Homo sapiens: one gene and its partner. The protein of the gene in region 1 purifies or fractionates together with the protein of each later gene. This does not show direct contact. Each region holds a gene or a part of one and is shown on either strand. Other genes may lie near its edges. The genes, in order: CAPN9 and MPI.

Evidence for each region.
Region 2: the proteins of CAPN9 (region 1) and MPI fractionate together in Homo sapiens (co-fractionation; one large-scale study listed by BioGRID). This does not show direct contact.

The regions. Positions count from the first base shown.
Region 1 is NC_000001.11:230,753,771-230,757,585, forward strand, and holds part of CAPN9 (calpain-9), read left to right. Parts: intron 1-128; exon of another isoform or gene 129-316; intron 317-1,566; coding exon 1,567-1,636; intron 1,637-3,815. UniProt on the Homo sapiens protein: Calcium-regulated non-lysosomal thiol-protease.
Region 2 is NC_000015.10:74,893,038-74,896,852, reverse strand, and holds part of MPI (mannose-6-phosphate isomerase), read right to left. Parts: intron 3,716-3,815; coding exon 3,533-3,715; intron 702-3,532; coding exon 528-701; intron 1-527. UniProt on the Homo sapiens protein: Isomerase that catalyzes the interconversion of fructose-6-P and mannose-6-P and has a critical role in the supply of D-mannose derivatives required for many eukaryotic glycosylation reactions.

The DNA of each region.
Region 1 (3,815 bases):
GCAGGGTGAGCCAGAACGGGCCTCGCTGCCACAGGATTGGCTGTTACCTCTCCCGAGACCGGCCCGGCTTCCTCCCTCCCTCCCTCCCTCCCTCCCTTTGTTTAGGTCTGTGCTCCTCTGCTTCCCCCAGAGACGCCTCCCCTGCTGACTGCTGTAGCTAGCCTTGCCCCATCCCACCCCTTCCCTCTCCATCCTCGCTCTTTTCTCTCCTGGTTTATGGTTTGTCTCTTCCTCAAATGCAATTTGCAAAACTCTCCTGAACGAAACAACAGCTTCTGGGAGGTGGTGGCAGCTGCAGGCACAGTGGGCGCCGTGGGTGAGGCCAGGGCTGAGGCAGGCTGGGGGAGGGGCGGGGCAGGAGGCTGGGAAGGGGCGGGGCTTCCGAGAGCACCGCCCTCCGCGTCCAGGGCAGCTCCACCAGGGCAGGGGCTTTCCCTCTCTCTTTGTTGTCGTCCAATGTCAGGAATGGAGCCCAGCAACTCAAAGAGTGGAAGAATATATGCATATCATAAGATTGCTTTCTACACTTTTTTGTTCATGTTTTATAAATACCCCTCCATATTGTATATGTATATATTAATATGTATTAATGATTACATTAATACACATAGTGTATGTGCTTATGTGTAATATAGAATAATATATATATAATGCACTTCGGTGAAACAATATGAGAGATGTGTGCATATCTCTCTTTATATGGTATAGATACATGAAATTTTACCTAAGCGCATCTCTGTAAAAAGAAACACTGAGCAGGGTGGCATGTGTCTGTAACCTCAATACCTTGGGAATCCAAGGCGGGAGGATCACTTGAGGCCAGGAGTTTGAGACCAGCCTGGGCAACATAGCGAGACCCCCATCTCCACAAAAAAAAAAAAAAAAAAATTAAAAAGTGGCTGGGCGTGGTGACTCACGTCTGTAGTCCCAGTTACTTGGGAGGCTGAGGTGGAAGGATTGCTTGAGCCCAGAAGGTCAAGGCTGTAGTGAGCTATGATCATGTCACTGCACTCCAGCCTGGGTGACACAGCAAGATTCTGTCTCTAAACCTATATATATTTGGAATCCACTTTGTGGGGGAAGGATTATATAAAGAAAGAAATGGAGAAGCTGGGTGGGTAGGGAGTATGTTTAGTCCAAGGCCCCAGCCTGTGGTACATGCATTACTCAGCTCCTTGAAGCCCACAGAGGTCACAGAGCTCACAGCTGGGATAGCCCTGGACTCCTAGCCCAGTGCCTGAGTGAGCACAGGAATCCTCAGTGTGTGGCTGATGTCCAGCTTTGTGGCCGGGTGTGGCCTGTGTTTCTGGCCAGAGATTGGTGCTGAGTGCAGCTCAGGAGGCAGGACCTCTCCCCGGCGGAGGAGATTTACCAAAGATGAGCCCAGCCTTATCCAGAGCATAGAGAGGTGGCAGCCTTTTACATCCACGTGGCCCTCCTCAGGGAAAAGAATCAAGCACAGGGAAAGCCCTCTGCCCCAAGAAAGCAGAGAGACCCTGAGCCTACCCTTTCATAGTGGCTTGCAGCATGGCAGGCCTCAGCCTAATAACACTCTCATTCCTCCAGGAAATCGTGAAAAACCCAGAATTCATTCTTGGAGGGGCCACCAGGACTGATATCTGCCAGGGAGAGCTGGGTGAGTGTAAGTGGATGGAGCATGGCGAGAGGGAGGTTGAGTCACTGGGACAGGCAAGCAACTGCAGCATGGGGTCCCTGAGGACCCAAGAGGCACGGGGCTGGGGGAACAACACTGCTTCGGCCTCTGCTTCCTCACTCCCTCTGAATGGAGTCCAGTGGCCTCAAGCCCCTGCACCTCCGTTCCTCTAGAGTCAGACATGCCTGTGATGTGGGGCTCACAGCCCCGGAGTTTACAGAGGAAAGTGACACCCAGCAGCGTTGGTCGGGCTCTCCTACACCACCACAGTAGCTAACACCTGCACACATGAACTCAGTCACCTGCGAGGTACTCTCCCCAGCACACATTGCCTCATTCCATCTTCACAACCCACCCTCCTAACGTCACAGATGAGGAAATGGAGGCTGAGGAAGGCTAAGTAACTTGTCCAAGGTCACAGAGGTGGTAGACAGGCAATCAGGATTTGAACCCAGACACTCCAGCAGCAGAGCCCTTACTGCTAACCATTATACACACCCTGGGGAGCCGCTCCCCAGCAATCCAGTCTCCCTCCTGCAATGAACCTGAGTGCACCTCAAGTCACTCAAATTGGGTCCTGCATTTTAGGACTTAATCCAACTGGGCTGGGTTTACCTTTGTTCTATCTATGAAAGACAGAGAAAGTGAGAGAGCGAGAGACTTTCTTTTAAAAAATACCAGTGAAATCAGCCTAGAGAACAAACCACTGCAAGCTTGTGTGGACCCTGACTTATTTCTAGCTGAGGTTGTCACTGTGGTCTATTGGTTAAGAAAGGCCATGCTGGAACCTCCATGCTGAGCAACTGAGCTATCCTAAACACAAGATCCAAAGTCACAAACCTAGACTGATGTTAGTTAATTAGCTAGACAGAGAGACAATTGAGAGAGAGAGAGAGAGAGAGAAGCAAATGGATAGATAGATAGAAACATAGATAATAAGTAATAGATGATAGGTAGAAAACGGATGCATAATTAGATAGATAAATAGGTTGATAGGTTGATTGATTGACTGATAGACCATACAAAATAAATATATAATAATAGATAGATGGTAGTAAATAATGATAGGAAGGTAGGTGGGTAAATACATGGATGGATGGGTATAGATAGATGATGGATGATAGACGGAATTACAGTTGACCCTTTAACAACATGAGTTTGAACAGTGCAGGACCACTTCTAAGTGGATTTTTTTTCAACCAAACACAGACAGAAAATACCGTGTTCCAGGCTGAGCGTGATGGCTCACACTTGTAATCCCAGCACTTTGGGAGGCCGAGGCAGGAGAATCGCTTGAGCCGAGGAGTTCAAGACCAGTCTGGGCAACATAGTGAGGGCTCGCCTCTACTAAAAATTAAAATTGAAAAATTAGCCAGGCTTGGTGGTGCATGACCATAGTTCCAGCTACTTGGTAGGCTGAGATGGGAGGATTGCTTGAGCCTGGGAAGTTGAGGCTGCAGTGAGCTGAGATCATGCCACTGCACTCCAGCCTGGACAACAGAGTAAGACACTGTCTCAAACAAACAAAAAGGAAAAAAAGGAAGGAAAGAAGGAAGGGAGAGAGGGAGGAAGGGAGGGAGGGAGGATGGAAGGAAGGAAGGAAGGAAGGAAGGAAGGAAGGAAGGAAGGAAGGAAGGAAGGAAAGGAGAAAATATACTATTCCAGGATTTGAAACCCGCATATACAGAGGGCTGACTTGGTATAGGCAGATTCCACAGGGCTTACTGTGGGACTTGAGTATGCACAGATTTTGGTATACACAGGGGTCCTGGAACCAATCCCCCATGTATGCCATATTCTAGATACAATGTAGACTTTTCAAAAGGTTTACATTCAGGTGGTCCTTCTCCAGGAGATCCTCCCTGCCGCTGCCCACCTCTCCCCCTCTTCCTCTGCCTCCCTTCCCCTCGACCCCGTAGTCCTCCATTGCTATCCAATAGGAAATCATTCTACTGGCTCCTTTGTTTTTCAAAGTTTTGGTTTGTCACATTGGCATAAACATATATTTGGAGTTACAACCTTATATTTTACCTTAGTGGATGGTTGATTCTAAAGATTATTTTGTAACACTTTTACTACACCAAAGTACTGTACATGGCATATATATGTTATAAAGAATAACAAGAAAATGAACAGCCGTGATCTGTTGCCACCCACAATA
Region 2 (3,815 bases), on another chromosome or scaffold:
AAAACAGGTGACAGGTCACCCATTATTGTCAGAGGGGAGTCATGTTAACCCCTGGGGGTTGGGGAGCCCCAACTCTGTAGTCTCCCACTTCTACCCCAGAATCCTGTGCATGAGGCATGTGTGGATAAGCAGCCAACAGTCGAAAGGTGGCATCCTTCCATGGCAACATGCATATTTTAGTGTAAAAATCCCTGGTAGGTAGGACAGACATACAAAGGCTGTGACAGAACAACAGCTTTGATCCAATATAGCCTGCGTTCAAATTGTGGTTCCCACACTGACTGGCAGGACTTAAAATCAGAGTAGCATGGCATCACAGGGTTGGTGTCAGGATTCAAGGCGTGTTCAATGCTAAATGCATTCATCATCCCTACCAGCTGTTGCTTGCTGAGCCCAGGAACCCTCAGAGGTCAGAGCTGCAAGGTCCTTGGGGGTCTCCTTGACCACCCTTCTCCTTCCTTTGTCCAGATAGGGAAACAGGGCCCAGCAGGGATGGCAGTGGGGCTCACTGCTGAAATGTGGCTCACCTCCTTTCAGGTAGGCATGGGGTACGTTGGCCTCCAGAAACATGGCCTCCCCAGGCTTCAGGGTAAGCAGGTTCAGGAAGTAGATGGCAAAGCAGCCGATATCACCTGGGTACTGCTGGTGCAGCTGTAGCAAAAGCTCCCCAAAGATGTCCTCCATGTTGTTTCCGGCAGCCGCTGAGGGTCACAGAGCACCCCAAGGTCACTTAGGGGGATACTCAGTGCTGTTCATAGCCCCACATTGGCCAGGGAGTCCTAGGAAAAGGTCCCTGCCACAGGAATCCAGAAGCCAAAGTGGCCCTGTCCTTCTGGCCACGCCTCCAGCCCTTTGGGGGTCGAGCCTTGCTTGATACTCCAGTCCATACAAATACCATCTTTCATCATATCTTGACTATTCATATGCCCAGGACTATACTAGCCACTAAAAGAGCTAGAGTATGGTCCTTTCAGGATGGGATTTCTCAGCCTTGGCGCTACTGACATTTGGGCTAGGTAATTCTTTATTGTGGGGGCTGTCCTGTGTACTGATGGATGTGTAGCAGCTTCCCTGGCCTCCACCCACAAGATGCCACTAGCAACCCCTATCTGGGTTTTGACAATCAAAAAATGGCTCCAGACAACAGCCAAATGTCCCCTGTATGAGAACCACTGCCCTTGGAGCTCAAAATCTAGGGAGATAACGCAAAAGAGTTTCATGAAGGGTAACCAACATGCCCGAGCTTTCCCTTTTTTTTTTTTGAGACGGGGTCTCGCTGTCACCCAGGCTGGAGTGCAGTGGCACGATCATACCTCACTGCAGCCTCAACTGTCCAGGACCAAGCAATCCTCCTACCTCAGCCTCCTGAGTAGCGAGAACCACACGTGCATGCCACCATGCCCGGCTAAGTTTTTTATTATTTGCAGAGAGAGGGGGTCGCTATATTGCCCAGGCTGGTCTCGAACTCCTGAACTCAAGGGATCCTCCCACCTAGGCCTCCCAAAGTGCTGGGAATACAGGTGTGAGCCACCGCACCCGGCGACTTTCTAGTTTTTAGCACTGAAAGTTCTGTGTCTCAGCTGGGCGCGGTGGCTCACACCTGTCATCTCAGGACTTTGGGAGGCCAAGGCAGGCGGATCACGAGGTCAGGAGTTCGAGACCAGTTTGACCAACATGGTGAAACCCCATCTCTACTAAAAATACAAAAAAAAAAAAAAAAAAAGCCAGGTGTGGTGGCACGTGCCTGTAATCCCAGCTACTCGGGAGGCTGAGACAGGAGAATCGCTTGAACCCGGGAGGCGGAGGTTGCAGTGATCGAGATTGCACCACTGCACTCCAGCCTGGGTGACACAGCGAGACTCCGTCTCAAAAAAAAAAAAGAAAGTTCTATGTCTCAGAGAATCTCTCTCGGTCTGCTCCAGAGAGCATGAGGCAGAATGCGCTGAGGGCCAAAATGTGTCCTGGAAACGACAAGGGAAAATGAGCTCAGCCTGGGTAGAGTGGCAAGGGTGGACTTCTTTAATTTTTAAATTTTTTTTCTTTTTCTTTTTCTTTTTTTTTTTTCCGAATCGGAGTCTTGCTCTGTCTCCCAGGCTGAAGTGCAGTGGTGCAATCTAGACTCACTGCAACCTCCACCTCCTGGGTTCAAGTGATTCTTGCGCCTCAGCCTCCTGAGTAGCTGGGATTACAGGCACACACCACCATGCCCAGCATTTTTTTTTTTTTTTTGAGACAGAGTCTCACTCTATTGCCCCGGCTGAAGTGCAGTGGCATGATCTAGGCTCACCACAACCTCTGCCTCGCCTGGCTAATTTTTGTATCTTTAGTAGAGATGGGGTTCCACCATGTTGGCCAGGCTGGTCTTGAATTCCTGACCTCAAGTGATACGGCCGCCTCAACCTCCCAAAGTGTTAGGATTACAGGTGTGAGCCACCGTGCCCAGCCAGGCTTCTTTAAAGTGAGGCAAGGGGCCTGGCGTGGTGGCTCACACCTGTAATCCTAGCACTTTGGGAGGCTGAGGCAGGTGAATTGCCTGAGCTCAGGAGTTCGAGACCCGCCTAGGCAACATGGTGAAACTCCGTCTCTACTAAAATATAAAAACTTAACCAGATGTGGTGGCACATGCCTGTAATCCCAGCTACTCAGGAGGCTGAAGCAGGAGAATTGCTTGAACCCGGGAGGCAGAGGCTGCAGTGAGCCAAGATCGCACCACTGCACTCCAGCCTGGGGCAACAGAAAGAGACCACACACACACACACACACACACACACACACACACACACACACACACACACACACACACACACACACACTGAACAGAAAAAAATATGCTTGGGTCAAATAAATAATGCCCTAAGGCTCAAAGGTAATGGGAAACCTGTAGAGGTAAAATAAAAAGAGAGCTCTGGGCCACCTAGAGAAGGGGTTGTGGCTGCCAGGCTAAGAAGCTGAGACCTCATCGCCTGCACCACATAAGCTCATTGCTGGGAGTCTGTTCTGTTTTGGGTTTCTTACTGCTTGTGTTGACTCCCCACCTTTAGGGTGACAGTGACCACACCCATCACAGTCATTTCCTGAACTCTTCTTAGCACAAGGTTGGGCACACAGAAGGTAAAGGAAAGATCAAATGACTGAGTGCTGGAGGCATCAGTCCTTTCCAGGAGAGGGAGGATGCTCGTGTCCCCTTCCTGCCTCTTTAGCCCCGAGATACAAGTCCATCCATGGAGGGCAGCTGCAGGGCTAGGGAAAATCTCAGAATGCCTAGGTGGAAGGCATCCTAAGAGTCCTCTATGCCAGTCTGCCTCCAACCATCTGGAGAAGATGACCAGTTGGGAAGCAGCACTCAACTAAGAAGGGCCCTGCTCCACAAAGACTAGGCAAGCAATGCTAAGTTGCCAACAGGTCATCTAAGTGGGGCCCCTTTTAGTGTTCCACTTGGGCAAGGGGGTTGAGAACTGTCCCCAGAGTCTGGTGTCTGCTGGGAAGCCCAGGCCAGAGCATTGCACCCAACCAGGAATATAACTGTGTCCACCTTGCTGGGAGATCCGCTTCACCAACAGGTTGAGCTGTTCCACCACCACCTTCTTCTCACTCTTCATCAGGTGGGAGAAACAGCTCTGCAGAGAGGAGGCCACAGCCTGGGAGTCATGGCTCATGGTCTGCTTCAGGTGTGTTGCTGCCTCATCTCCAATCAGGAACTGAAACTCAGGCACCTCTACAGGAAGGCAAGGCCCAGGGCCCATATCAGGAATGGTAAGATGGAACCCACACAAGTGGGGAGTTGGAGGACACCTTTCCATCCCAGCCCTAACCAA